Regions from separate parts of the Homo sapiens genome. Here regions 1, 2, 4, 5 and 6 are each linked to region 3. The links come from fine-mapping of genetic effects on gene expression. A gene starts in region 3. Each other region holds a variant in brackets. All regions are shown on one strand. Distances are between the middles of the regions.

Region 1 (5,076 bases), 26 kb after region 3:
TGGCCTGGTGCAGAAGCTAAGTCCAAACCAATGACCTCCTATAACTTTTATTTAAGAGAATAAAAATTCCCATTATAAGATATGACATGTATTCATCTATATTTTATTTTTGTTTTGTCACTTCACCTTTTTAGGGAGAAAAAAACACAGTTGTTACTCGGTAATGAGGGATGTTGGGACTCAGACGATACCCTAAAGTATGACACTTTGGGATACTGAGTACTTTGAGCTAAAGGAGACTGGAAGGCCTCAGAAGCAAGATCTCTGTGACCTTCTCCTTCCATCTTCCCTCTTGCCCCAAGTCTTCCTCTTCCAAAGCAAGTCATAAAAACCAGAATTCACCGGGCGCAGTGGCTCACTCCTGTAATCCCATCACTTTGGAAGGCCGAGGCAGAGGATCTCTTGAGCTCAGGAGTTCAAAACCAGGCTGGGCAACATAGCAAGACCTCATCTCTATGAAAAAAATTTTAAATTAAAAAATTAAAAATTATCTGGGCATAGTGCCACATGTCTGTAGTCCCAGCTACTTGGGGGGCAGAGGCGGGAGGATCACTTGAGCCCAGGAGTTTGAGGCTGCACTGGAGCTATGATTGCATCACTGCATTCCAGTCTGGGAGACAGAGTGAGATCCTGTCTTTAAAAAAAAAAAAAAGCAACCAGAACCAAAATTCCTCTTCCTCAAGTCTAGTTACAGACTCCTCTCCCAAAAAGCACGCTATAAAACCTAGAAAGGTCTCTCTGTCCTCCTTCTCCCTTGCAGACCCTCATTCCAGAAGAGTCCTGCCCCACACCCAGAAGGAAGGAGTGTTACACAGAGAGGCCAAGAAGAATCTAGACAGACAGGCCTTACTGGGCCTCCCCACTTGGTCTATTGCCATGAGATCACATGATTTGTCCAATCACATTTCTACATGGCCGTCTATTCTTCATCAAACCTAAACATAAAAATACAATTTTCCTTGGGTCTTTGAGTCTTCATTTCTGTAGGCTCCCATGTCACATAAAATTTTGATTAAATAAATTTATAATGCTTTTCTTTTGTTAGCCTGCCTTTGTTATAGGAGTGTTGGCCTTATGATGGTAAGGAAAGGTATCACGCCTTTCCATCCCTAAACAAGCAATGATTACCATCTAATTAAATTAAACAAAAATGCACGTGCCGGCCGGGCACAGTGGCTCACACCTGTAATCCCAGCGCTTTGGGAGGCCAAGGCAGGCAGATCACCTGAGGTCAGGAGTTCAAGACCAGCCTGGCCAAAATGGTGAAACCCCGTCTCTACTAAAATATACAAAAATTAGCCGGGCATGGTGGCAAGCGACTTAATCCCAGCTACTTGGGAGGCAGAGGCAGGAGAATCGTTTGAACCCGGGAGGCGGAGGTTGCAGTGAGCTGAGATTGAGCCATTGCACTCAAACCTGGGGGTAAGAGTGAGACTTCGCTAAAAAAAAAAAAAAAAAGCATGTGCCAAGCACTGTTCTAGGCACTTAGGGAATACCAGAGAACCAAAGGAACAAAAATCCCCACGTTTGAGGAGCTTATGTTCTGGTGGAGGGAGAGAGATAATAATTAATATACATAATAAATAGACTACATATTAAACATAGGTTAGGGTGCTGCATTATAAACTACTGACACTGTGAGATCATCAGTGACCTGGATGGGCAGTTTCAGTGGGGAGGAGGCAAAGGCCCAACTGAAGTGTGTGAAAAGTGAACTAGAGGAGAAAGGAGAGGTATTGGAGACAGTGGGTCTGGCTAACAAGGAAGTGGTAGCTGTAAGGACAAGTGGGCTGAAAGGAGACTTTCTTGATGAGAATGAATGAACTCAGCTGGGAGAGCTGCTGGGGCCATTTCTTTGAGCCCATGCAGTTGTGAGGCCCCTGGCAAAAATCATATGACACTCTCCAAAGAGGGAGCCTGGAGAGATTATAATAGAGGAATGGGCTGACTTAAGAGAAGGAATGGTGAATCACAGGGTGCTCACAAAGCAGGAGGGCCATGAAGGAGCAAAATCAGGGGCAGTTATATGAAATCAAGACAGGGAGCTTTAGCCACAGGAAAGGGTTGCCCAACCAAAGCCGGAAAAGAGCTTCTGCCCACCTAAGGCCATGGGGAGGGATTGAGGATAAATACCCCAAAGTCTCCCTCCTCCACCCTTCTCTGTACTACTTGTACCTCCCATTGTCTCATCCCAACAGAAGTCAGAATGCAACGAGATCTGGTTGATACTGCACAGAGATCAGCTCCAGGGCCCAGTGCAAGGAGAAGGTGGAGAACAGATCCAGAAGGGCAAAAGGAGGACACTTAGCACAGTGAGAGGAGATAGTATCTAGTGCACAAATAGAGGGACTGGATTTAGAGAGGGACATGGATAATTCACCTGCAGGAGGGACTCTTAGCCTTTATATATACCATAAATTCTTTGATGGGTGAAATTTCTGGATGGTCAGAATAATGTTTTCAAATGCATAAAATATAAAGGAATACAAAGAAAACTAATTATATTAAAACACAGTTATCAAATCATTGAAAAAAAAAAAAATCAAAGCCAGGTGTGGTGGCACATGCCTATAGTTCCAGCTACTCAGGAGGCTGGGGCAGGAGGGTGGCTTGAGCCCAGGAGTTTGAGGTTGCAGTGAGCTATGATTATGCCTGTGAATAGCCCTACTGCACTCCAGCCTAAGCAATATAGTGAGACCCCCATATCTAAAAACAAACAAAAAAAACTGTGATACATTAAAGCATGT[G/GTTTC]TTTATTAATGCTGTATATAAGATCTAGCAGTGGGTCGAGTAACTACCATAATTTCAAAGTAGACTGAGTACCGTGGCTCATACCTGTAATCTCATAACTTTGGAAGGCCGAGGTAGGCACATGGCTTGAGCCCAAGAGTTTGAGACCAGCCCGGGCAACATGGAGAAACCCTGTCTCTAAAAAAATTAGCTGGGTGTGGTGGCATGTGCCCATAGTCCCAGCTACTTGGGAGGCTAAGGTGGGAGGATCATTTGAGCCTGGGAGGTCAAGGCTGCAGTGAGCTGTGATAGTGCCACTGCCACTGTACTCTAGCCTGAGTGACAGAGCGAGACCCTGTCTCAAAAATAATAATAATAATAATTTCAAAGTGGTAATACACGTATACAATATTTTATGAGTTCTACAAAAACTGTTTCATATATCTGTAGTGTCTTTCGGGGCTAAAAGCACAGGTACTGCTAATGCTACATTTATTAACTACATTCATAGTTGAAAGACATGCTAGATTTCAGATAAAAGTCATTGGAAATAAACTTTCAATCCCACATGCAAGATCACGACCCTGTGGATTCTGCCCCCAGACCCTTTAGGAGGAAGGCAGAGTGTGAGGCCACAGAAGTCGACAGGTGGGGAAGATAGATGGTAGGAATCTGCAGGAACTTCTTCTTGCTTTGCATTTCTCAGTGAAGAAAGAGTCAAGTCATGAGCCAACAGTGAGGATGGAAAGGTAGATGTGAGAGGTTGAGAAGAGAGAAGGCATGAAAGAGTCTTCTAGGAAAGTGGGAAAGTGAATGAACTAGGAAATAGCATGTGATTACCAGGCAGCACAAAGGGCCCATCTGAAGTTCATGGTCATGGAATTTAACGGGAGACTGGTCAGCAAGGGTGTTTTCTTCTAGCCACGTTCAGCTTCACGAGAAAAAGACAGGCTAGAGGGAGAATTGCGTTAACCGCTGCTGGGTTTTTGCCGTGTGAGTATAACAAGAAAGGGGCAAGGGAGGAAGAAGTGTGCATGCTTAAAGGAGGGATTGTAAAAACCCATGGAATGCAGATTTTTTTGATTTTTATTTCTTATTTCACTTATTTATGTATTTATTTTTTTGAGACAGCGTCTCACTCCATCACCCAGACTGGAATGTAGTGGCTCAATTTCGGCCCATTGCAACCTCTGCCCCCCAGGTTCAAGCGATTCTCCCGCCTCAGCCTCCTAAGTAGCTGGAATTACAGACACACGCCACCATGCCCAGCTAATTTTTTGTATTTTTAGTAGAGACAGGTTTTCACCATGTTGGTCAGGCTGGTCTCAATCTCCTGACCTCAAGTGATCCGCCTGCTTTGGCCTCCCAAAGTGGTGGGATTTCAGGCATGGGCCATCATGCCCGGCCAGAATGTAGTTTAATTAGAAGGGAAGAGAGGACATCAGTAAATAAGGCACACTGAAAAAGTGGTAGACTTGATGAAGTGAAGCTCCCACAAAGGCTCAAAGACTGTAGAATCAGAGTATAAGAGAGAATGAATGGAGAGATAGGAGGTAGTTGTCAGACAATGGGATTTTAAACATAACCTTTTGTGGTAGGCAGAAATCCTCCATCCTTCTAAAATGTCTAAGTCCTAATCCTTGAAACTTGTGACTATATTATCTTACATGGCAAAAGCAATTTTGCAGATGTAATTAAGTGCCTTAAAATAGGGAGCTTATCCTGGATTATACACATAGGTCCAATGTAATTGCAAGGGTCCTTAAAAGTGGATGAAGGAAGCATAAAAAGAGAGTCAGAGAAAAAAAAGGTGACAACAAAGCAGGGTCACAGTGATGCTATGTTGCTAGCTTTGAATATGGAGGAAGGAAGCCATGAACCAAAGAACGTGGGTTGCAGCTGGGAACTAGAAACGGTATAGGAACAGATTCTCCCCTGAGCCTCCAGAAAGAAACACAGCCCTGACAACACCTTGGTTTTAGACCAGTGAGACCCGCGTTGGACTTCTGAGCTACAGAACTGTAAGATAATAAATGTGGCCGGGCGCAGTGGCTCACGCCTGTAATCCCAGCAATTTGGGAGGCAGAGGCGGGTGGATCACTTGAGGTCAGGAGTTCAAGACCAGTCTGGCCAACATGGTGAAAACCTGTCTCTACTAAAAATACAAAAATTACCTGGGCATGGTGGCGCATGCCTATAATCCCAGCTACTTGGGAGGCTGAGGCAGGAGAATCATTTGAACCCAGGAGGCAGAGGATGCAGTGAGCTGAGATCGTGCCACTGCACTCCAGCCTGGGCGATAGAGCAAGACTCTATCTCAAAAATAAATAAATAAATAAATAAGTGTTGT
Region 2 (5,076 bases), 45 kb before region 3:
GTTCCTTCAGTCTCCACCCCAAGCTCTGAGTCCTTTGAATCCTCCTTTTCTACAGACTCATCTGACCTCCCTTTCTCCCCAGGCTGCTCCTCGCCAGGCCAAGCCAGGTCCCAATTCTTCCTCAGCCTCTGCGCACCCACCCCACAATCTTTTTATCACCTCCCCTCCTCACCCGGTCTGGCTTACAGTTTTGTTCCGCGACTAGCCCTCCCCCACCTGCCCAGCAATTTCCTCTGAGAGAGGTGGCTGGAGCTAAAGGCATAGTCAAGGTTAATGCTCCTTTTCTCTTTATCCGACCTCTCCCAAATCAGCTAGGATTTAGGCTCTTTTTCATCAAATATAAAAACCCAGCCCAGTCCATGGCCCATTTGGCAACAACCCTTAGACATTTTACTGCCCTAGACCCATAGGGGTCAGAAGGCCGTCTTATTCTCAGTATGCATTTTATTTTATTACCCAATCTGCTCCCGACATTAACTAAAGCTCCCAAAATTAAATTCCGGCCCTCAGACCCCACAACGGGACTTAATTAACCTCACCTCCAAGGTGTACAATAATAGAGTAGAGGCAGCCAAGTAGCAATGTATTTCTAAGTTGCAATTCCTTGCCTCCACTGTGAGACAAACCCCAGCCACAGCTCCAGCACACAAGAACTCCAAACGCCTGAACCACAGCTGCCAGGGGTTCCTCCAGAACCCCCTCCCCCAGAAGCAAGTGCTGGAAATCTGGCCACTGGGCCAAGGAATGCCCGCAGCCCAGAATTCCTCGTAAGCCATGTCCCATCTGTGTGGGACCCCACAGAAAATTGGACTGTTCAACTCGCCTGGCAGCCATTCTTCCGGGAACTCTGGCCCAAGGTTCTCTGACTGACTCCTTCCCGGATCTTCTCATCTTAGCGGCTGAAGACTGATGCTGCCTGATTGCCTCAGAAGCCTCCGGGACCATCGTGGATGCCGAGCTTCTGGTAACTCTTACAGTGGAGGGTAAGTCCGTCCCCTTCTTAATCAACATGGAGGCTACTCACTCCACATTACCTTATTTTCAAGGGCCTGTTTCCCTGGCCTCCAAAACTGTTGTAAGTATTGACGGCCAGACTCCTAAACCTCTTAAAACTCCCCAACTCTGGTGCCAACTTGGACAATATTCTTTTATACACTCCTTTTAGTTATCCCCACCTGCCCAGTTCCCTTATTAGGCTGAGACATTTTAACCAAATTATCTGCTTCCCTGATTATTCCTGGGCTACAGCCACACCTCAATTGCCATCTTTTGCCCCAATTCAAAGCCTCCTTCACATCCTCTCCTTATATCTCCCCACCTTAATCCACAAGTACAGGATACCTCTACTCCCTCCTTGGTGACAGATGATGCACCCCTTACCGTCCCATTAAAACCTAATCACCCTTACCCCACTCAATGCCAATATCCCATCCCACAGCACACTTTAAAAGGATTAAAGCCTGTTATCACTTGCCTATTACAGCATGGCCTTTTAAAGCCTATAAACTCTCCTTACAATTCCCCCATTTTACCTGTCCAAAAACCGGACAAGCCTTACAGATTAGTACAGGATCTGCACCTTAACAACCAAATTGTCTTGCCTATCACCCCATGGTGCCAAAGCCATATACTCTCCTATCCTCAATACCTCCCTCCACAACCCCTCCATAACCCATTATTCTGTTCTGGATCTCAAACATGCTTTCTTTAGTATTCCTTTGCACCCTTCATCCCAGCCTCTTTTTGCTTTCACTTGGACTGACCCTGACACCCATCAGGCTCAGCAAATTACCTGGGCTGTACTGCTGCAAGGCTTCACGGACAGCCCCCATTACTTCAGTCAAGCCCAAATTTCTTCCTCATCCATTACCTATCTCAACATAATTCTGCATGAAAACACACGTGCTCTCCCTGCTGATTGTGTCCGGCTAATCTCCCAAACCCCAACCCCTTCTACAAAACAACTCCTCTCCTTCCTGGGCATGGTTAGGTACTTCCGCGTTTGGATACCTAGTTTTACCATCCTGACTGAACCATTATATAAACTCACAAAAGCAAACCTAGTTGACCACACAGATCCTAAATCCTTTCCCCACTCCCCTTTCCATTCCTTAAAAAACAGCCCTAAAAGTTGCTCCCACACTGGCTCTCCCTAACTCATCACTCCGTTTTCATTACACACAGCTGAAGTGCAGGGCTGTGCGGTCGGAGTTCTTACACAAGAGCCAGGACCGCTCCCTGTAGGCTTTCTGTCCAAACAACTTGACCTTACTGTTTTAGCCTAGCCCTCATGTCTGCGTGTGGCAGCTGCCACTGCCTTAATACTTTTGGAGGCCCTCCAAATCACAAACCGTGCTCAACTCACTCTCTACAGCTCTCATAACTTTCAAAATCTATTTTCTTCCTCACACCTGACACATATACTTTCTGCTCCCCAATTCCTTCAGCTATACTCACTCTTTGTTGAGTCTCCCACAATTACCATTGTTCCTGGCCTGGACTTCAATCTGGCCTTCCACATTATTCTGGATACCACACCTGACCCCCATGACTGTATCTCTCTGATCCACCTGACATTCACTCCATTTCTCCTTATTTCCTTCTTTCGTGTTCGTTACCCTGATCACACTTGGCTTATTGATGGCAGTTCCATCAAGCCTAATCACCACTCACCAGCAAAGGCAGGCTATGCTATAGTATCTTCCACATCTATCATTGAGGCTACTGCTCTGCCCCCCTCCACTACCTCTCAGCAAGTCAAACTCATTGCCTTAATTCGGGTCCTCACTCTTGTAAAGGGACTACTCATCAATATTTATGCTGACCCCATATCCTGCACCACCATGCTG[C/T]TTTATGAGCTGAAAGTTTTCCTCACTACACAAGGGTCCTCCATCATTAATGCCTCTTTAATAAAAACTCTTCTCAAGGCTGCTTTACTTCCAAAGACAGCTAGAATTATTCACTGCAAAGGCCATCAAAAGGCATCAGATCCCATCACTCAGGACAATGCTTATGCTCATAAGGTAGCTAAAAAAGCAGCTAGCGTTCCAACTTCTATCCCTCACGGCAGTTTTTCTCCTCATCTAGTCACTCCCACCTACTCCCCAACTGAAACTTCCACCTATCAATCTCTTCCCACACAAAGCAAATGGTTCTTGTACCAAGGAAAATATCTCCTTCCAGCCTCACAGGCCCATTCTATTCTGTCATTTCATAACCTCTTCCATGTAGGTTACAAGCCGCTGGTCCGCCTCTTAGAACCTCTCATTTCCTTTCCATCGTGGAAATCTATCCTCAAGGAAATCACTTCTCAGTGTTCCATCTGCTATTCTACTACTCAGGGATTGTTCAGGCCCCCTCTCTTCCCTACACATCAAGCTTGGGGATTTGCCCCCACCCAGGACTGGCAAATTGACTTTACTCAACATGCCTCGAGTCAGGAAATTAAAATACCTCTTGGTATGGGTAGACACTTTCACTGGGTGGGTAGAGGCCTTTCTCACAGGGTCTGAGAAGGCCACCATGGTCATTTCCTCCCTTCTGTCAGACATAATTCCTCGGTTTGGCCTTCCCACCTCAGTTTCTGAGGCTCTTGGTATTTAGTGGCTCCTGGTTTTACCTCAAATCGCCACCCTTAAGTCTATCTAGAAGTGGATAGAAGATCTTCAGTGATAAAGTACCCTCCAATACTTTCACCCTGATGAAGTCCTATTCTTTACTTTTATACTTACTCTTATTCTCGTTCCCATTCTTATGCCACCCTCTACCTCTCCCCAGCTATCTCCACCACACTATCAATCTCAGTCACTCTCTCCTAGCCCTTTCTAATCCTTCTTTAACAAACAATTGCTGGCTTTGCATTTCTCTTTCCTCCAAATTCGAGGAGGCCCTAACTTACTCACTGCTAAAAAAAAAAAAAAAAAAAAAAAAAGGTAGGGGGGACTCTGTATATTTTTAAATGAAGAAGGTTGTTTTTACCTAAATCAATCTGGCCTGGTCTATGACAACATAAAAAAACTCAAGGATAGAGCCCAAAAACATGCCAACCAAGCAAATAATTATGCCGAACCCCCTTTGACACTCTGTAATTGGTTGTCCTGGGTACTCCCAATTCTTAGTCCTTTCATACCTGTTTTTCTCCTTCTTTTATTCGGACCTTGTGTCTTCCAAATAAGAGAATAACAATGCTCCTTCTAACAACCCCACAATATCACTCCTTACCCCAAAATCCTTCTTCAGTTGAATATCTCCCCCTGTAAGTTCCCACGCCACCCCAATCCCGCTCGAAGCAGCCCTGAGAAACATCACCCATTATCTCTCCATACCACCCCCAAAAATTTTCACCGCCCTAACACTTTACCACTATTTTGTTTTATTTTTCTTATTAATATAAGAAGACAGGAATGTCAGGCCTCTGAGCCCAAGCTAAGCCATCATATCCCCAGTAACCTGCATATATACATCCAGATGTCCTGAAGCAACTGAAGTTCCACAGAAGTGAAAATAGCTTAACTGATGACATTCCACCATTGTGATTTGTTTCTGCCCCACCCTAACTGATCAATGTTCTTTATAATCTCCCCCACTCTTAAGAAATTTCTTTGTAATTCTCCCCACCCTTGAGAATGTACTTTGTGAGATCCACCCCCTGCTCCCAAAACATTGCTCTTAACTCCACCGCCTATCCCAAAACCTATAAGAACTAATGATAATCCCACCACCCTTGCTGACTCTCCTTCGGACTCAGCCCACCTGCACCCCGGTGAAATAAACAGCCTTGTTGCTCACACAAAGCCTGTTTGGTGGTCTCTTCACACAGACTTGCGTGAGACAACCCTCACAGGGGAACCTGAAGGTCTAGATCACAGGAGGAGATTCTGACATTAACTGCAGCTGAGTCAATTTAGAGAGCTGAGTGAAATACAGGGGTAGAGGAAGCAGCGGGATAAGCCCTGTGGGCTCTCTGGGTCTCCGGGGAAGCCATTTCTGCCTTGCCTCACAGGAGTCCTTGGGGAGGGCTGCCAGAGGAACTGGGAAAAGACCACAGGGAAAAGGAAACCTCCAGCTGAACTGTGT
Region 3 (5,076 bases):
CCTCCCGGGTTCAAGCGATTCTCCTGCCTCAGCCTCCTGAGTAGCTGGGATTACAGAAGCAAGCCACCACACCCAGTTAATTTTTGTATTTTTAGTAGAGACGGGGTTTCACCATATTGGTCTGGCTGGTCTCAAACTCCTGACCTCGTGATCCTCCTGCCTCGACCTCCCAAAGTGTTGGAATTACAGGCATGAGCCACTGCATCCGGCCTGAAAGGAACTTTTATCAGTGTATCTTCTCTCAGCTCCTCATGAGGCTTATCCTGGGTGGTGTGTGCTGGAGGCTGGGCAGAGGGTGCTTCTTAGACAACTTCCAAGGTAAGTTCATAGGCAACATTTCCTTTGCTACTCTCTCTTTTCTTCTCTCTCGTCCTCAGGATTACCCTCTGCATCTTTTCCATATGAAAACCCCATTTCCTCTTTCCTTTATTGAATGCCCCTCAAAATCAGAACTTACATCATTAGGCATTATTCTCTATTTCCTTGATGATATGGAGGATGAGATTTTCAGACACTATGCAGAGGTAAGGGGAAATATTTATATTCTGCATGAGAGTTGGGAGAGGGGAGAAAGAAATCCTCCACCCCAGATCGGGTTAATTCATCAAAGCAACTCATTAAATTTTCGTGTTAAAAGAAGTTGAACATTCACACTTCGCTCTACTTGGAGCTTCATTAAAATGCAAATGAACACAGAAGGGTATCTGTTCTTAGTTATCTGGCCTAACTAAAGATTAATTGCAAACCCTTTCCTGAGAGTAATTTTTGATAAATGAGAACTAGGGGGAAATTAGGTGCTTGAGAGAGATGCAGAAAGGGCACAGCTGGAGGATGTGACAAGAAAAGAATTGGAAAGACTATGGGAAGGTTTTGCTGTAGCACTGCACAACTAAAGTTATATTTACTTCCTAAACCACAAACTTAAAATACGCATATAATTATACTTTCCAAAGAAATATCATGGTTTATTCCTTCCAACTACCTATGAATCTTGCTCTCAGTAACCATGCCTGTCTTCTCCATAGTCACACCCACCTGGTCTAAACTATACCTTTCTCTTTTGCAACAAACTTAAATTCACTAACCCTATCTGTGAACTTGGATACAATTCCCTCATCTTTCATGTGCCACCAGTCCAAAATAAAGATTTTCAATGCTAGTAACTTTATGTATACCTCAGTGAGCATCCAATAAATTCTGTACTCTCAGCCTACATCCCCATAACTGCTCTTTTGAGAAGAGATGAGACCAGAACACACCTGAGATGTTCAAAGCAAAGATGTCTAAGGGATTCAAAGCTAACTTCAAACCAGAGCATGTCTAGCAAGTTGGCTTTTTCAAAGAACTCCAACATCATTGGAGGGACTAAGAAAGCATGGGAGAAATGAATGCTATAATAGGAGTGAATGGGAAGCAATTTGAGACCAAAAGTAGAGAATCTAAGTAGCAAAAAATGACCAATTTTGTAAAAAAATCAAAAGTTGCCAATAAATGGCTATCAATGAACAATAGGAAATGCCATTAGCATCAGCGGTAGTGGGAGTATTATCAGATATGTTACCCAAGGATTCTACACAAAGGAAGAGGAAAGTTTGGGATATTTGAAGACATGATGACTTTACTGTAATAATTATTATCTATTACCTTGATCGTCTTCTTCAAAGTTAGAGTGGTCTAGGGAAGCTAGGGACAAGTTTTTATTAACTTTGTTAGTCTACCCACCTTTCTCCCAACACTTCAAGAATTTGTGGCCTGGGAAAACTGTGTTATAATAGGACATCCCAAAGCTGCTGGAACATCCTGACGCTCTGAAATTGAAATACTTTTCTGGGAGCTGATACATTTATTTAGCTGCTGACCATAACACACCAAAGACTGCAACAGACCCCACCCTGGAAGAAAAGCAGGCAGAGAATAAGGAAGTCATATATCACTGGAGAAAAATTAGGATTCTCCAAGCTGTGCATACTTTTTGTTTTAAATTTTTTACACAGGCTTGACAATGTTTAGAAAAGCCAGTCCAACATTACCAATAAAAGATTAGTGTTTAACCCCATATCCCATAATTGACACTGCAAATAAGACATTTAGGATTTATCTTGAAATTCCTACTGAAGTTCGATTTTCTTTTAATCACTGCTAAATCTGCATCAAGTTACACAAACTTTCTAACAGAAAAGTGTTTGTGACTAACAATAAATGAACTCCGTTCTTAGTAAGTTAATTTTAAAACATAGATGATCATTCTATCTCCTTAGTTTTGGTTGCCAATGCAAATGAGTCAGAGGATTTGCTTCAGACACTGAGATAATTGTGTAACTCTACAGCGGAAAATGCCATTGGAGAGTACTTGCTGACCTCACAGTTGAAAAAAACTATTTAAAAGATGTGGAAACCAGATGTTTCAGTCACATTTCAGCCACTGCTCTGAGAATTTGTGAGCAGCCCCTAACAGGCTGTTACTTCACTACAACTGACGATATGATCATCTTAATTTACTTATTTCTCTTGCTATGGGAAGACACTCAAGGATGGGGATTCAAGGATGGAATTTTTCATAACTCCATATGGCTTGGTAAGAACCTTCACTCATGAGCCTCTTGTTGAGAATGTCAATTCTTTAAATCATGGAGAAGGAAATTTAAAGCAGTAACTTTTTCTATTCTGTACAAGGCTGATGTTCTCAAAGAAAATGCTTAGGAAAGATAGCCTTTGGAATACATACGCTTTTTTTTTTTTAAGCGTTCTTGTCCTCTAAAATTTAAAAATAGCATTTTATAAAGTGAATTGTTCAGTAGAAAATAGCAGTTAATATTTATATTCAGTATGAAAATATATTTTTAAACTTTTCAAAGCAGATGTAGTAGTACAGTGAGGAGTATTTCTTTAACCAACTAGAAACTCCAATATAGTCTTCTGTTTTTATGTCAATGCATTTGCAATCAGATTTCAGAATCCTAACAGGTAAATTGGAGTCTACGAAAATTTTATAATAATTGCTTCATGGACTCTGAGCTATAGTCTATATCTTAGTTTTTTCAAACATTTTGACTATTTTGACCAAGCCAGCTTGCAGTACAGAAAAAAGTGAAAAATGTTTCTCCTTCTGAATGCATTCTTACCACTTTGATTCTTTCTGTTTCTACTATCCATATAAATACTTTTCTGACCCTTTTGTTAGACAAGGAAAGTTTCTTTTGTTATTTTGTTTTGTTAAATGTAAGGAATGAGACAGGCCAAACAGTGAAGATAAACAATAGATCAAAAAAGGAAAATGCAGAAAATCCAAAACACCCCTTAGATTACAGTATGCTAAACAATGCTTTAATTCTCATGATACAAATTGATATTGCTCTATGTTCATTATTGTGTTTAATAGTAAAAAAAAATTGAATTTCTTGGGGAAAAATGCATAGATTCTTGCATAGAATAAAGAAATAAAGAGAAGGCGAAATTAACCTAGATTTTGATTTTATGCTTTCTAAACAGCACAGTTGTAGAATATTTTCCCTTTCAGCATGTTTCTCTCTGGTAATAACTGCAACCATGCGGATTTCATTAAAAAGCCTAATTTGTAATGCACAGCCTTGCCGCCTATTTTTTTCAGCTTGAGCCAGTGAACTAATTTCACTGTGATCCATTTGGCCAAGACGGGATCTGAAATTTAGTAGAGGAATGAGCCCATCTCTTTATTTTAGTTGAATACAGTCAAATATAGGAAATACACTCATATTTGTCAGGATTTTTTTTAAATGTCATAAAGCTAGTAAGAATTAAATCCAGGCAGATAAACTTTGAAATATTATCAAACCCTCTAATAATCAAGTAATTTAGAGTTGTCTTTTAAAGTGTTGTCATATGTTACAAAAATATAAACCTGGACAATAGAAGTTTTGCCCCAGAGGTAGAGAGAAGCAAATTCAAACGTCTATTAATGTATGCTACAAATCTGAGGGTCAGGATAATTGCAAATTGCTTCAATCTGGGGCAAATTTTTGACCAGCCAGCCTAGCACAGATGTTTATAGTTGGTTGGATCAATATAATCTTTTTAGAAACCATTTAGGAAGGAAAGATAGTTGGATTAGAAGGGATACATCTGTTAGCAACTATCAAGAACAGGACACTTTAAATCTAGGGTGTCCCATCTTTTGCCTTCCCTGGGCCACATTGGAAGAAGAATTGTCTTGGGCAACTCATAATTTTTTTTTTTTTTTTTTTTGAGGCAGAGTCTCGCTCTGTTGCCCACGCTGGAGTGCAGTGGCACCATCTCGGCTCACTCCAAGCTCCGCCTCCCAGGTTCACGCCATTCTCCTGCCTCAGCCTCCCAAGTAGCTGGGACTACAGGCACCCGCCACCACGCCTGGCTAATTTTTTGTATTTTTAGTAGAGACAGAGTTTCACCATGTTAGCCAGGGTGGTCTCAATCTCCTGACCTCGTGATCCGCCCACCTTGGCCTCCCAAAGTGCTGGGATTATAGGCGTGAGCCACCGCACCTGGCCCAGGGAACTCATAATGTTTTAAGAAAGTTTACAAATTTGTGTTGGGCCACATTCAAAGCCGTCCTGGCAGGCCGCAAGTTGGACAAGTTTACTTTAAATTCTCTAGGTTATGGTTCCAATCTGGTAAAATGATAAGGTTGAAGTAAAGGATCCCTAAGGCTTATTTTAACTCTGGTATCATCTAATTTTTAAAATAGTACTTAAAACAAAAACAAACCACAGTTAAGGACAAGAAATTACAATCATTTTACATGGATCATGAGAATAAAAAATGCACAGATAAGCAATTATTTTTATTGTTGAATCTGAAAAAGAAGGGAAAGGAAGGTGGGATGCAGTGGTTCACACCTGTAATCCTAGCACTGTGGGAGTCTGAGGTGGGCAGATTGCTTGACCCCAGGAATTAAAAAGACCAGCCTGGGCAACATAGAGAAACTCTGTCTCTACCAAAAAAAACACAATTAACTGGGTGTGGTGGTGCATGCCTGTAGTCCTAGCTACTCAGGAGGCTGAAGTGGAAGGATCACTTGAGCCCAAGAGGCAGACGTTGCAGTGAGCCGTGACCTCACCACTG
Region 4 (5,076 bases), 67 kb before region 3:
GTCATTCCTTTTATGCAATCATGTAGTAGGCAAAACAATGGCTCCCTCAAAGATGTCCACATCTTAATCCCAAGAATCTGTGATTATGTTAGTTTATATTGCAAAGGAGAATTAAGGCTGCAGATTGAATTAAGGTTGCTAATCAGCTTGCTTTTAAATATGGAGAGCATCCTGGATTATCTGTGGGAGCCCAGTGTAATCATGAGGCTACTTAAAAGTGAAAGCGGAAGACAGAAGAAGAGTCAAGAGTGAAATGTGACCCCGGAAGAACTTTCAGAGGCGCAATGTTGCTGGCCCTGAAGATGGAGGAAGGGCTGCTGAGCCAAATAAGGTAGGTGGCCTCCGGAAGATGGAAAGAGGATTCACCCCAAGAGCTTCCAGAAAGGAAGGCAACCCTGCCAACACTTTGATTTTAACCCAGTGAGACCTCAGTAGGACTGCTACAGAATCCTAAGATAGTAAATTGTGTATGTGAGTGTGTGTGTGTGTGTGTGTGTGCGCGCGCGCGCGCGTTCCTATGTGTTTAAGCCACTAAAGCCATGTAATTTGTTATGGCAGCGAATTAAAAAAACTGATACAAATCAACATCACCGTATTTCCGTAATACAATCATATAACTGCGGTGCCAGGCCGTGTAGAATCGAATCTTCCTATATGCATGCGTGGCAGCAAAAAGAAAGGCAATAGAACGTCTGCCTGTTGTACAGACTGGAAACACAGTATTCTCCTTCGGATGTCTCCTTCAAGAAAAACCTTGCCTATTCTGACACGCCAGCCATGACTGCACAACACTGCCCCTACCAAGAATCGTTTTCTTAAGAAATCCGTTTTCCTAAGGACTATCTCCAGAGACACTCGGAGAAAACAGCGAGGGCCGGGCGCGGTGGCTCACGCCTGTAATCCCAGCACTTTGGGAGGCCGAGGCGTGCGGATCACGAGGTCAGGAGATCGTATCCATCCTGGTTAACACGGTGAAACCCCGTCTCTACTAAAAATACAAAAAAAAAAATTAGCCAGGCGTGGTGGCGGGCGCCTGTAGTCCCAGCTACTCTACTCGGGAGGCTGAGGCTGGAGAATGGCGTGAACCCGGGAGGCGGAGCTTGCAGTGAGCCGAGATCGCGCCACTGCACTCCAGCCTGAGCGACAGAGCGAGACTCCGTCTCAAAAAAAAAAAAAAAAAAAAAAAAGAGAGAAAACAGCGAGGAAACACAAATAACTTTATGTTTCAATTTCCTCAATGAAGCAAAGCAAACAAGTGACAAGGCTCGAAGCCCTGACGGCCCAGAGACTGCACAGCGGGCCCAGGAGCAGGTGCGCCCCCTCGAAGGCGGCGTGGCCTCCGCGACTCGGCTGCGGGCAGCTCCCGGGGAGCAGGGTCTCAACTCCGGCGCTGTCCCACTTCCGTCGGCGCTGAGGGCTCCCACCTCCCTTTCCACCCCCGGCTCTCCAGCCCGGGACTGCCAGCGGCGGGAGTGGCAGCCGGGGAAGGGACTCCCCACTCACCCGCGTCCGCCCGCCGAGCGCAGCTCCCCAAGGCCCAGCGCGCCTGCCCTTCCCGGAAAACAGCAGCGCCTGAAACGCCGGAACCCCGGGAGGCACTGGGAGGGGAAGGCCCGGGTTCTCGAAACTGTCGCTGCCTCCTGCAGAAGCGCCGCGGGAGAGCTGCGGGGTCTTCCTGAGGAGGTGGCCCTCGCAGGAACAGCTGGGTTCCCCGCGAAAAGAAAAAGACAGTGAAAAAGAAAACTGCTTTAACGGCGATTTTTCTTTAGCATTTAACCAATGCTCAAATACTAAACATGGTTGTCTCCAATGATTAGTCACTAACAGAAAAAAAAACTAATTTCACTTTCGATTTTTAAAAAGGGGTGGTTTTGCGGAGGAAAGCAGAAGTATACCTGAAGTTTCCGTACACACTAATTTTAGGGAACGCTTTCTAAAACCAGTTTTTTGCATGTATTTTATAAGGTATGTTGGAAAAGTGGATAGAAACCAAATAAAGTCAAAGCAGGAATCGCTCTTCATCAGATTGTAACTCTTTTGTAATTTCTTAGTCATTGTAACACTAGTT[G/T]ACAAATGTTTACAGTCAGCACAAGATCGGCGTTTCTGTGTCTTTTGTAACATCCCCCGGGGCCATGAAGTTGGGAAAGCTGTGGTGTTCCTGTTGGTTTCTGTGACCCATGTCCCTTGAAAGTTTTCTTATAATCTCTTGTTTTGTTGTGGAGCTTGTAAATAAATACTTCACTAGGTGTGAACTTTTCCTTTGAAAATTCAAACATCTGGTTTATTTCAAGAACTGCAGTGTCTCTTAATCCCACACAAAGAACCACCCCACAGCTGCCCCGGCTCATAAATACAGATGTGGGAAGAAAATGAGTCAAAATTATTTCAAGGCATAAATTATAGGTTATCATGCTACCTAGTCACATATAATAACTGATACAGTGGTCTAAAATAGTTTAACAAAAGTAAAATTTCTTTGTATCAAAAAGGTTGATGGGAACCAGTTTAAAGTGGTGACATTTCTCTTTTTTTTTTTTTTTTTTGAGATGAGTCTTGCTCTGTTGCCCAGTCTCCAACTCCTGAGCTCAAGCAGTCCTTCCACCTCCACTCCCAAGTAGCTGGGATTACAGGAATTCACGACCGCACCCAGATTTTTTGTACTTTTAATTTGGGTGCTGGGGGCAGGTATCTAACTGTTTCCCAGGCTGATCTTGAGCTCTGGCCCAAGTGATCCCACCACCTCAGCCTCCTGTAAAATGGCATTTCTAAGTAAAAAAAACGACTTCTTTGTGCTTATCAGACCAGTTAGAAAATACAAAAACTCCTTCTGCTGCAACTTGAGAAAGAATTACTTTAGTTTTACCTTGAAATTTTAGAGGGAATATGAACTCTCGAGGTTATTTAGTTGAACCTCATTTCTTCTTATTTTTATTTTTTACAAGAAGATACTAAAGGACAGGACCATGGCCAGAACAGGACTAACTTAATATATTGACTCAGATTCTGTTTAAAAGGCAAATGATACAGGTGGAGGGGAAGTCTTTTTGGACACCTACATTCTAAAGCTGAGACATGTACTAACAGTCTGAATTTAACTCAGCTTCAAATCTGGTATTCTGCAAAGTGTTAGAGATCTGAAGATGAAGAGTTGGCTCCTGGACATACTATTAATAATTGTAATTGCTAACATCTACTAAGAACTCCTGGACATTTTATAAACCTTTTTGTTTTGCCAACAACAATATTAGATATAGGTATTATTCCCATTTCTTTTCACCTGTCTGAAGCAGGCAGGAAGGTATTATCCCCATTTTGCAGTTGAGGAAACTAAGGCATAAAGAGGTGACCCAAAATCAAGCAGTTAATATATGGTGACAATGATATCATACTCTACTCTCAACAATATCTCCAAACTGTGTCCTAGGGTACATGGAGAACATGGAATTTTATGGCCCAATACAATTAGGAAATGCTGCATTCTGAATCCACTTTTGGAAATTCACAATGCACATTGGCACATTAAGAGTTCCAAGAAGTATTGCAGGGAAAAATTAAAAATTTGTGCATATTAAAAATTTTAACTTTATTCAACCTTGAACTTATCAAATCAATTTGAGCGATATATTCTTTTTTTCAAGGAACAGTTATTAAAATCTTGGGGAGTTTCTGATGGGACCTTTCGAGGAATGCTCTAGTAAATTACGCCCTCTCCTAATATAAAAGTTATTTATTGATGTTATCATGCACTCAATAAATATGTTGCACATGAGCTGCAGCACTCTGTGCCTTGGATATCTCATGTAAATCTACACAGATGTGAGGTGAATATTATGTTACACATTTGTCTCCCTGACTACATGGCAATGAACTCCTCCCAGGCTTTCTATAAAGACACACACACACACACACACCAGTATTACATACAGTCTAATGTGTGTTGGAAGGGGTAGGATACCAGAAGTAGTAAAAAACAAAGGAGAGCGTAGTCCCCTCTACCTGAGGAGGTCAGGGAAGTTTCCTTCACAGAAGAGGTGAAAATTGAGTTGATTCATTAAGGTAGAGAAAGTAGACTGAGAAGAAAGATCGGGTGAAAAATCTCAGAGGGATGTGCAATGGACTAAATGTTTGTGTTCCTCCAAAATTCGTATGTTGAAATCCTAACCCCCAAGGTGACAGTATTAGGGCTGGGGCCTTTGGGAGATGATTAGGTCATAAAGGGTGGAGCCTAAATGAATGAGATTAATGCCCTTATCAAAGAGGTCCAAAGGAGTTTGTTGACCTCTTCTGCCATGTGAGGACACAGACAGAAGGTAATCTATGAATCAATAAGCTGGCTCTCACCAGACACTAGATCTGCAGGACCCTGGATCTTAGACTTGCAGCTTCCAGAACTGTGAAAAATAAATTCTGTTGTTTATAAACTACCAGTTTATGATGTTTTATTATAACAGTCCAAAAGGACTAATATAGCATAAAACAAATGGGAGGCACCAAGAGTTTAGTGATTATGCAAACTATGAGAAAGCTACCTGATATCTATTACATGATGATTCTCTTTTAAGAAAAGGCTACTACACCAAGCTTATGCTGCTGTTGCTAAGATTGTGTTGATCTGGTTTGCAGTTCATCCTTGGGGAAACTGGAACACTTATGCCCAGTATTGTGCAAGATCCTGGGGGGATACAAATGAATTCTGTAACTTCCTTCTAGTTTTCAAGAGTGTTCCCATTGGACTACATAAGTGGTAAAGGAAAATACTTACTCTTTTATCAGGCAAGCAGTACTGTATAGTTAAAAGCATGATTTTGGCCAGACATGGTGGCTCATGACTATAAACCCAGCATTTGTGGAAACTGAGGCAGAAGAATCACTTGAGTCCAGGAGTTCAAGGCTGCAGTGAGCTGTGACTGCACCACTGTACTTCAACCTGGGCAATAGCACGAGACCCTGTCAAAAAGTAAATAAATAAATAAAGCATGGTTTTGGTGTCAGAAATGGGTTTGAATTTCAATTTTTAGTTACTGAAGTTTCTCAGCTTCAATTTTCTCATCTATAAAATAAAGGTGTGGTGCATGA
Region 5 (5,076 bases), 74 kb before region 3:
AGGCAGGACATGACAACACCCCAGAAACCCCCTTGGGTTCCCTTCTGGGTCTTACCTGCTTCCAAAATAACCACTGTTTTAACTTCAAACATCCTGCTTTTGCTTAATTTAAAGGGAAGCATATGGTATGCCCTCTTCTGTCTTTTTTGTGTTAACATTGTGTTTATGAAACTCATTTGTGTTGCTGCATGTCATTATGATCTGTTCATTCTCATTGCTGTGTAGTTTTCTATCATATGACTATACCCCAATTCACTAATTCGTTCTACTATGAAGGAATCATTGGGTTGTTTTCCATTTTGAACTATTACAAATGGTGGTGCCATGGATGATGATAAGGTTTTAAAAATGAATTTTGTGTAATTAAAATGCTTTTTCCAAAAACCATGCATCCATCAAAAATGTAGTATATAAAATAATTAAGAGAGTACCTGGAATTCTTTGGTAGCCTCTTGTAACTCCGTTTCAAGCTTTTGGATCTCCTTCTTTAGTTGAATATTTTTCTTTGTAATTTCATCAATTAGTCCCTTAAAAATATCAAATGGTACCAAAGAAAGTAAATAGCCCCTGAACTCATTTTTCCGAATGAACTAAAGACTATAAATTTCTCTCATCCTGACCAAAGAAAGACATTAGACAGTCTCAGAATAAATATGACTATGTGAATAATGCATTTGTTGAATATTTTACATCATCACCTGTCTATTCTAACATTGCCAAGTAGTACTATCTCCATTATATAAATCAGGAAACCACCTTTTACACTAGACCGAAGTCACAGAAAGTTGTATAGTAAGGCAAAGATTGAGATCAGATCTTCTGAATATTACTTCAGTGCTGCATCAACTCCTTTCCTAGCTATTTGTGAGCATGATAAGACTTTTAAATTGCACTGTAATAGCGGACATATTCTGGGGCAGTTTGTTGTTGGTGTTGTTGTTGTTTTTGTTCTTAATTATCTGTGATTCCCATAGTATCGCATAGTACACAGTTACCTTAATGAGCCAGACATATGACCTTGGGGAAGTGGTTTAAGCTACCTGGGCCTCCGTTCCCTCTTGGGGTCTAATGAGATAATTGCTGACTATGCTCTTAACTTGTTGATGCAAATCCAAGAAATGAGGGTGTGAGTGAGAAAGCAGCTAGTGTTGTAAGCCTTATAAGAGAAAGAATAAAAATATGACACTTCTTGTAAGGCTTAAATAACATAATGGAAGTTAAAAATTTTTTTAAAGCCTAACGGCCTCCCAAATTCAAGGTAATGTTGGACAAAGACATACAAAACATGCCTTACTGCAAAACTAATAGATATAAAATAATTTTTAATAATACCCAGTAATTTCCTTTTTACCTTATTTTGTTCATCTTTTATAAATTCATCTGGCGAATGCTCCTTAAGAATTTGTTGTGTGTCATCTTTATCAGCTTCCATGATCCCCTAATATTATAAAAAATAAATATTATAAGCATAGCATATATACACAAATTTAAGAACAAAGAAATAAGAACTTTTACCCTTTTATGGAAGAAACATCTCTTCTTTGCTATATCTTTTTTTCCCATCATCAAAGGCTTTATTATCATATGGCTTATATCCAAACAAAGTCTGTATTTTAATAACTCCTTTTTTTTTTCTTTTTTTGAGACAGAGTCTCTCTCTGTCGCCCAGGCTGGAGGGCAATGGTGCGATCTTGGCTCACTGCAACCTCTGCCTCCCAGGTTCAAGTGATTCCCCTGTCTCAAGCCTCCCAAGTAGTTGGGATTACAGGTACCTGCCACCATGCCCGGCTAATTTTTGTATTTTTAGTAGAGATGGGGTTTCACCATGTCGGTCAGGCTGGTCTTGAACTCTTGTCAAGTGATGCACCCCCCTCGGCCTCCCAAAGTGCTGGGATTACAGGCGTGAGCCACAGCACCTGGCCAATATTTCAAATAACTTTCACACCTATAATATATAAAAAGATTCTAAAAATCCTTTGCTTTTCAACAAAATAATATATAGAAAGTAATGAACATTAATGTTCCTTTGTAGTTCACATTCCAACCATAATATCATGCTCCATTTTAAATGAATACTATTTTGGTTTTCCAACGTTTTTCAAAGTTTTTGATTAAAATATTTAATTCTCCCTATTGTTCTCCCCAAATGTAAACAAAGTCAAGAGGCCTCCAACATATGCTTTCTCTACGCAGGTGTTCTTACCTGAAGCTTTCACTAACTCTCCTGCTGGGTCCATAAACATGGATTGGGAAGAAATTATATGTTTATTTCTAATAACCTCTAATTGAAGCTTAGCATTCTCTTCAATTATGAATATGGTAACAAACTACAGTAGTATTCACAGCACCTGTGATAGTCACCAATAGAAAGCACAGATAGTTTCATAGAATATTGTTGCAGATATGCTAAAATAGTTTGTGTTTAACATTGCTTCTACATTAGTTACTAACCTCACCACTAGGTCTTGTAATATATTGTAATACATTGATATATATCACTATATCAAACATTTGCTTTTTAAATATTCTGATAACCATATTTCAATACAATTGATTTCTGGCCGGGCGCGGTGGCTCATGTCTGTAATCCCAGCACTTTGGGAGGCCAAGGCGGGTGGATCACAAGGTTAAGAGTTTGAGACCAGCCTGGCCAACATGGTGAAACCCCGTCTCTACTAAAAATACAAAAAAAATTAGCTGGGCGTGGTGCCAGGTGCCTATAATCCCAGTCATATTTCAATACAATTGATTTACTTTGTAATTCTATGTATTTTATTTTATGCATTTAATTTTTTTTTTAGATAGGGTCTCACTTTGTTGCCCAGGCTGGAGTGCAGTGGGGCATGAACACGGCTCACTGCAGCCTCAACATCCCTG[A/G]CTCAAGTGATCCTCCCACCTCAGCCCCCCAAGTAGTTGGGACTACAGGTATGTGCCACCATGCCCAGCTAATTTTTGTATTTTTTGTAGAGATGTGTTTTCGCCAAGTTGCCTAGACTGTCTCGAACTCCTGGGCTCAAACAATCCGCCCCCCTTGGACTCCCAAAGTGCTGGGATAAGCCACCATGCCTGTCCCCACAGGCATTGACTAAATGTTTTTTTTTTGGAGAAAGGCCCATAGGATTTGCCAAGCTGGCAAAGGAATCCATGGTACACAAAATTTAAGAACTCTTGCCTACATATGAATTTACTGAGATGAAAAACTCTCAGATCAAAAATGGGACAAAGGATATCATGATTCTATGTTTTTAGATACACATTAATAAACAGTCTGCCATATAATTTTCCAAGATTTCAAGTGGCTAAATTCTCAATATTCTTGAAAAAGAAATAAAAGACATCTATTCCTCCTTAAAAATAAAATAGAAGACTAGCAAAAACTTAGCTATGTCTTAGTTTAATGAACACAGGAGTGTCAAAAAAAGAGGAGAGTCGCATAACACCCAGATCTTGGTTTCTAATAATATTCTTCAATAAAAGAAACCAGGGCTCATTGGAGCAATGGCTGATTCTAGGTCTGGGGTATAAAATATACAAAATAAGCCTGGAATATCTTGTAGTGCCAGAAAAGTAAAAAGCACTAAAACACATGCACAAACACATACAATATGATGGGAGTATGTGAAAGGGACATGGGGACCCAACTGAAAGGGCTCCAGTGGCCAAAAGTACATACACAGAATTGATCAAGTAAGTAAATATATGGAGGATAATAGGAGCCAAGTTTTTCACCGTCAGAGAAGATAATTATAAATATGGAAATGGAGAAAACAAGAATAAATACTGTTGATTGGAACTAGATTTCAATGTAATCCTGCAGCTGTGGTTTCTGATTGATGATTGAGATAGATAGATAGATAGATAGATAGATAGATAGATAGATAGATAGATAAATAGACAGACAGATAGAAATACCTATGTGTGATTACCCAGGCATGGTGGCATGCACCTGTAATCCTAGCTACTCGGGAGGCTGAGGCAGGAGAATCGCTTGAAGCCGGGAGGCAGAGGTTGCAGTGAGTCAAGACTGCGTCACAGCACTCCAGCCTGAGCGACAGAGTGAGACTCCATCTCAGAAAAAAAAAAAAAAAAAGCAATGCCTATGTGTGTATCTTGTGTATATACAAATACATATATACCCTAGCTCTGTCTGCTGAGAAGGCCTGGGAGAGCAGATACAACCACAATGAGCAATGAGCACACTCAGCACCCAGACTTTGGTTTCTAATACTATTCTCCACCAAAAGGAACCAGGACTCTTTAGAGAAATGGTTGATCCCAAAACCAGGATAGAAAAACTGCAAGATGAGCCTGGGACATCTTATGATGCCAAAAAGCAAGGAAATGCTTAAAGAATGATGATGACATGTTGAAACGACACAGAATCCACCTTGAGATGGTTTTCGGTGGCCAAATCTGGGGATAAATTAAAGATTAAAATACATAATGGTAGTAATGATTAAATCTGTTGATTAAAGTAAAAAACTGAGTCCAGATAAATTAGAAATTTTGATGAAGAAAGGAATTTTTAGTTAGCTTCAAAATAGTTCCCCACAAAATGTTTATTAATTTCAAAGAAGAAAAGAGTAACTTTATACTGGAGAAGTCTGGCAGACATCAACATAATGAGATAATCAAAGTAAATAATGGAATAAATCAAAATAATGTAACATATTACAAGGTGCACTGAGAACACAATGTAACTTCGACGACAGTCCTGCCAAAGATGCATAATCTGAATCTAAGCATGAGGAAACATCAGACAAACTCAAATTGAGGGGTTCTACAATACAACTGCCCTGTTCTCTTCAAAAGTTTCAAGTTCAGAAGGCCAAGGAAAGACTAAGAAATGTCCATACTGAAGGAGACTAAAGAGACCTCACAACTAAGTAGAAAGCATGATCCTCAACTGGATCCTTTTGCTATCACTGGGGCTCAGAAACTGATACCCGGAAGTATGGCATTTTGACATGGTGAACTGAAGATGGCTCAAGGTCTCTCTGACCTCCCCCTCCTCCTCCTCTGTCTCTCCCAAAGCACAGGATGAAGGTGCACTGATGTTCTCCTATCTGCCTAAAT
Region 6 (5,076 bases), 60 kb before region 3:
CAGTAGCTGAAACCAGAGGTGCACGCCACCACGCCCAGCCGGCTAATTTTTTATGTGTATATTTTTTATAGAGATTGGGGTTTCGCCACATTTCCCAGGCTGGTCTCGAACTCTTGGACTCAAGCAATCCACCAGCCTCAGCCTCCCAAAGTGCTGGGATTACAGGCATGAGCCACCACCTAATTAATCTATCAAAATAGATTAATATGTATCTACGAAGATATATATTCGCCCAGCCTAATATATATCTTGATATAATAAATTATTTCTGTGGATCTCCCTTGAAATGTGTGGCATAGTTACAAGATAGGGAAAAATATGTTTTTGGGCAAGAAGACTTTCTGTACACCAGTGTTTGACAAACTTCCATGTCCATATAAATCAGCTGAAGATCATGTTAAAATATACATTCTGATTCTGTAGGATTAGGGTGGATATTTTGCATTCCAAAAGCTCCTAGATGATGCTGATGGTGCTGTTTCTTGTAAGAGGTGACAGCGTGCTGGCAGTCCTCGCAGCCCTCCCTCGCTCTCGGCGCCTCCTCTGCCTGGGCTCCCACTTTGGCGGCACTTGAGGAGCCCTTTGGCCCCGCCACTGCACTATGGAAGCCCCTTTCTGGGCTGGCCAAGGCCGGAGCCGGCTCCCTCAGCTTGCGAGGAGATGTGGAGGGAGAGGCGCGGGGGGAATCGGGGCTGCGCGCGGTGCTTGCAGGACAGCGCGAGTTACGGGTGGGCGTGGGCTTGGCGGGCCCCGCACTGAGAGCGGCGGGCGGCCCCGGGCAGTGAGGGGCTTAGCACCTGGGCCAGCAGCTGCTGTGCTCAATTTCTCGCCGGGCCTTAGCTGCCTTCCCACGGGGCACGGCCCGGGACCTGCAGCCCGCCATGCCTGAGCCTCCCCCGCGCCTCCGTGGGTTCCTGTGGGGCCCGAGCCTCCCCGACGAGCGCCGCCCCCTGCTCCACGCACCCAGTCCCATGGACCACCCAAGGGCTGAGGAGTGCGGGCGCACGGCACCGGACTGGCAGGCAGCTCCACCTGCGGCCCCCGTGCAGGATCCAGCTGGGCTCCTGAGTCTGGTGGGGACTTGGAAAACCTTTATATCTAGCTAAGGGGTTGTAAATACACCAATCAGCACTCTGTATCTAGCTCAAGGTTTGTAAACACACCAATCCGCACCCTGTGTCTAGCTCAGGGTTTGTGAATGCACCAATGGACACTCTGTATCTAGCTACTCTGGTGGGGACTTGGAGAACCTTTATGTCTAGCTAAGAGATTGTAAATACACCAATCGGCACTCTGTATCTAGCTCAAGGTTTGTAAACACACCAATCAGCACCCTGTGTCTAGCTCAGGGTTTGTGAATGCACCAGTCAACACTCTGTAGCTACTCTGGTGGGGACTTGGAGAAACTTTGTGTGGACACTCTGTATCTAGCTAATCTAGTGGCGACATGGAGAATTTTTGTGTCTAGCTCAGGGATTGTAAACGCACCAGTAAGCACCCTGTTGGACCAATCAGCTCTCTGTAAAATGGACCAATCGGCTCTCTGTAAAATGGACCAATCAGCAGGGTGTGTGGGTGGGGCCAGATAAGAGAATAAAAGCAGGTTGTCGGAGCAAGGAGTGGCAACCTGCTTGGGTTCCCTTCCGTAGCGTGGAAGCTTTGTTCTTTCGCTCTTTGTAATAAATCTTGCTGTTGCGCACTTTTTGGGTCCACACTGCCTTTATGAGATGTAACACTCACTAAGAAGGTCTGCAGCTTCACTCCTGAAGCCAGTGAGACCACGAACCCACCGGGAGGAACGAACAACTCCAGATGCGCCGCCTTAAGAGCTGTAACGCTCACCGCAAAGGTCTGCAGCTTCACTCCTGAGCCAGTGAGACCACGAACCCACCAGAAGGAAGAAACTCCAAACACATCCGAACATCAGAAGGAACAAACTCAGGACATGCCGCCTTTAAGAGCTGTAACACTCACTGCGAGGGTCCGCAGCTTCGTTCTTGAAGTCAGTGAGACCAAGAACCCACCAATTCCGGACACGCTTGGGCTACACTTTGAGTGACAAGGCTGTACACTAACTGGTTCACTAAAATCATGACCAGAGATTGTCATTCTGGTCGACGGGTTTTATGTGCCACCTGGCTATTACGAAGCGCAGAACCCTCTTACTGTTTCCAGCCTGGAGGCCGAGTCCATAGACGGAAAGTGAGGTATTTCTAGGTGTCCCTGTGTTTCATGAAGGGGCGGTATATGCAAAGCAGCCCCCAAATGCCAAAGGAGTTGAGCTACCAAAGAACAAGGCAGACAAATCCAGTTCGTCAGTAAGGAGTGTTTTAATGGAAAGTTAAGATGGAAATGTGGCGGCAAGGCAGATCTCTGCACTGTTGCTTCCCAGACCCAGGGCTTATATACCACAGGGAAAGGGTATACGTGCTCCAGCAAGACAATTAAAAGCAACCCTCCAAAACAGGCAAGAATGCCATATGCATTATAGCCTATAGTTTGTCTGATAATATCAGGTTTGACATGTTCTTACACTAAGGACAGTAAATAAATGAGGAATTAGGAGGCATTCATGGGACTGGGGCTAATCAGGACTCAATATGGCAGATCAGCATCCAAAATGGAGTCCTTTTGTCTCCACACCCTGGTGTGCTTTTCCTGAGGAAAGAGCAAGAGCTGTTCCTATCTTTCGTGCCATCTCCTTCAGAGAGCATTGGCTTCTTGCTTGTAGCTAGGCTGCCATTATAGCTACTCTGAGGGAAAGGA[A/G]GGAATAAACAGTGAGGGGAAATGAGTCAAAATGACACTAAAGAGTGGAAAGAGGAAGTAAGAGAAGCCAAGAAAAAAGAACAGGGCAAGTGTATATGGGAACTTGAAAGAGGTATTCTCTTCTCTTTCATTAATTATTCATTTCAATTTATTCTAAATAGTTTGCCCTAGTGTACAATGTAACAAGATAGAATGATCTCACACACAGGACTCATTTTAATAACATAATATCTGCATGGGGATGTTTGATAATGTTTAATATACAAAGGCAGAGTTAATTCATCCTTCTCAGGGCTTAAACCCGTCCAGGGAAATTGTAAATAAAAACAAGCTTCATCTCCGATAAAAATAAAACAGTGTCCTTCAGATCTTACTGCTTCGCGACTTTATGAATTGGAATGGAAACGTTGTTGCCTTTTGGGAGATTGACCTCAGCTGTTTTTCAACTTTTTGAAGAATAAGAACTCTAATTTTGGTGCCAATACTCAAATAGAAGTTTTCTCAGGTGGACAAACAACACCTGGTAGGCTGGTTTGTCATGGAAATTGCACCACCTTAAAATCACCAGGAGAACCAAGCTGAGTCTTTGCTTTGACCCTGACTAGCTCTGTGAACTTGGGCATATGTAAAGGATCTGGTATATAATAGGTGCTCAAAAAAATGTTACTACTGATCGCATTTCCCTTTAGCTTTCCGAGGGTCCATTTCTCAGTTTCTCAAATGTAAAAATGATGACAATAATGTTACCTACCAATTATAGGGTGTTTGGTGAGGATTAATTTAGCTAATGTACATAAAAATACTTTTTGAACAGTAAATGCAAAATTAAATAATATTATTAATATTAATATTGTCCTCTGATTTTAAGCTATAATTAGAAGAGTTGAAAGGGATGACTGTTGCATAGAGAAAATAATTTGATAGGTTAAAATATAAAATGCAAGACCTGAATACAGTCACCAAGACAACTGCATAAAATGACACTGGATGGGCACCACACAATGCCTCCTCATGTCCCCTCGAATTGTGCAGTGTGTGCCAGGAACGGATTCTGGGCTGCCAAGACTTAGTTGTTTGCTGATCTAGATTTAGATAGAACACATAAAAACAAGTCAGTCAGATAGTAAGTCTAAGATCTTTCTCTCTCACTCATTCTGTTTCTCTTATTTTTGCCATATTCTTTTTTTTTTTTTTTTTTTTTTTTTTGAGACGGAGTCTCGCTCTGTCACCCAGGCTGGAGTGCAGTGGCGCGATCTTGGCTCACTGCAAGCTCCGCCTCCCGGGTTCACGCCATTCTCCTGCCTCAGCCTCCCGAGTAGGTGGGGCTACAGGCGCCCACTACCACACTCGGCTAATTTTTTTGTATTTTTAGTAGAGACGGGGTTTCACTGTGTTAGCCAGGGTGGTCTCGATCTCTTGACCTCGTGATCCGCCCGTCTCCGCCTCCCAAAGTGCTGGGATTACAGGCGTGAGCCACCGTGCCTGGCCATTTTTGCCATATTCTTTAATGAACTGTACACGTAAGAAAGATGGGTAATATTGAGTGGGTTTTTTGTGATGTAGTCTCTGAAGATATACCAAGCAGCAATTGTTTTCTCTGCTGCTCATACAGCCCCTTTTATGTGGCCACAAACCTAATCTGGCCTCCTGCAAAGGGCAATGTGATCAGATGGCACAGATTTCTTAAAACTTGATTTCAAAAATTCTGCCCAGTTTCATTTCTCATGCCACAGCCAGTGTCTCTTTTTCCCCATACTCTCTTGCATGAAAATTCATAGTTGAATTTCCCGCAGGACTTTTCATGGGGCTAATCTACATCTGGAATTTACCCTGCTAATGATTCTCTTTCCTTTCATCCTGTATACTCGTGCCAGATTATTCTTCTAAAAGGGTCAGTATCATCATGTCATTCGACATGTTAAGCGCTTGCAGATGACATCCCATATATACAATCCAAATTCCAGAGTGTAAGATGTACACTCCCTCCCGTCACTCCCAATACCAAACTTTCCACCACAGGCTGGCTACAGTTTATCGGTAACTTCATCAGCCATTACTCCCTTCCACATCCCACTGAATTAGTCAGCTATCCAACTCCAGAACATACTAGGCCTCCTCTCTCTTACTATTTTCCTCCCCTAAGTTGTTTCCTCTTTTCTTTCTATTATTTCAGTCATACAGTCAGACAAGTGAACTTTCAACAAACCCACACACACACTATACATGCAGTGGTGATAGTGAAAACACAACTGCTCAGCATGGACATTGAACCATGAGAATGGCTCTCACCAGAGTGCTGGAGCAGTGTCC

Direction of the effects. Positions count from the first base shown, and alleles are read on the strand shown. Sizes are in standard deviations (SD) of each study's normalised expression. Not every link is listed here.
With allele T in place of G in region 4, the expression in whole blood of the gene that starts at base 2,407 in region 3 is lower (moderate effect, 0.58 SD a copy in GTEx).

Evidence for each region.
Region 1: its variant is fine-mapped to the expression of TNFAIP6 in monocytes after LPS (Quach 2016, PIP 0.95).
Region 2: its variant is fine-mapped to the expression of TNFAIP6 in whole blood (TOPMed, PIP above 0.99).
Region 4: its variant is fine-mapped to the expression of TNFAIP6 in whole blood (TOPMed, PIP above 0.99). The same link has a PIP of 0.9 or more in blood mononuclear cells, neutrophils and spleen.
Region 5: its variant is fine-mapped to the expression of TNFAIP6 in whole blood (INTERVAL, PIP 0.98).
Region 6: its variant is fine-mapped to the expression of TNFAIP6 in whole blood (INTERVAL, PIP above 0.99).

What each region holds. Positions count from the first base shown.
Region 1 is chr2:151,380,851-151,385,926 of GRCh38, forward strand. It overlaps a transcript of TNFAIP6 not described here. Among named protein-coding and RNA genes, the nearest start is that of MIR4773-2, 15 kb to the left of the region's middle. The variant G/GTTTC (reference allele first, on the strand shown) is at 2,748.
Region 2 is chr2:151,310,395-151,315,470 of GRCh38, forward strand. No RefSeq gene overlaps it. Among named protein-coding and RNA genes, the nearest start is that of NMI, 23 kb to the left of the region's middle. The variant C/T (reference allele first, on the strand shown) is at 2,850.
Region 3 is chr2:151,355,186-151,360,261 of GRCh38, forward strand. It overlaps TNFAIP6 (TNF alpha induced protein 6), which reads left to right and starts at 2,407. Exons shown (of 6, transcript NM_007115.4): 1 at 2,407-2,575. The coding sequence starts at 2,482. All of the region lies in intron 2 of LOC101929319 (a long non-coding RNA gene), which reads right to left.
Region 4 is chr2:151,288,090-151,293,165 of GRCh38, forward strand. It overlaps NMI (N-myc and STAT interactor), which reads right to left and starts at 1,579. Exons shown (of 8, transcript NM_004688.3): 1 at 1,504-1,579. RefSeq lists enhancers at 128-297, 1,098-1,147, 1,168-1,217, 1,608-1,687, 1,748-2,167 and a silencer at 1,348-1,547. The variant G/T (reference allele first, on the strand shown) is at 2,069.
Region 5 is chr2:151,281,517-151,286,592 of GRCh38, forward strand. NMI (N-myc and STAT interactor) reads right to left here. Exons shown (of 8, transcript NM_004688.3): 2 at 1,352-1,438; 3 at 432-527. The coding sequence starts at 1,432. Among named protein-coding and RNA genes, the nearest start is that of NMI, 5.6 kb to the right of the region's middle. The variant A/G (reference allele first, on the strand shown) is at 2,878.
Region 6 is chr2:151,295,342-151,300,417 of GRCh38, forward strand. No RefSeq gene overlaps it. Among named protein-coding and RNA genes, the nearest start is that of NMI, 8.2 kb to the left of the region's middle. The variant A/G (reference allele first, on the strand shown) is at 2,767.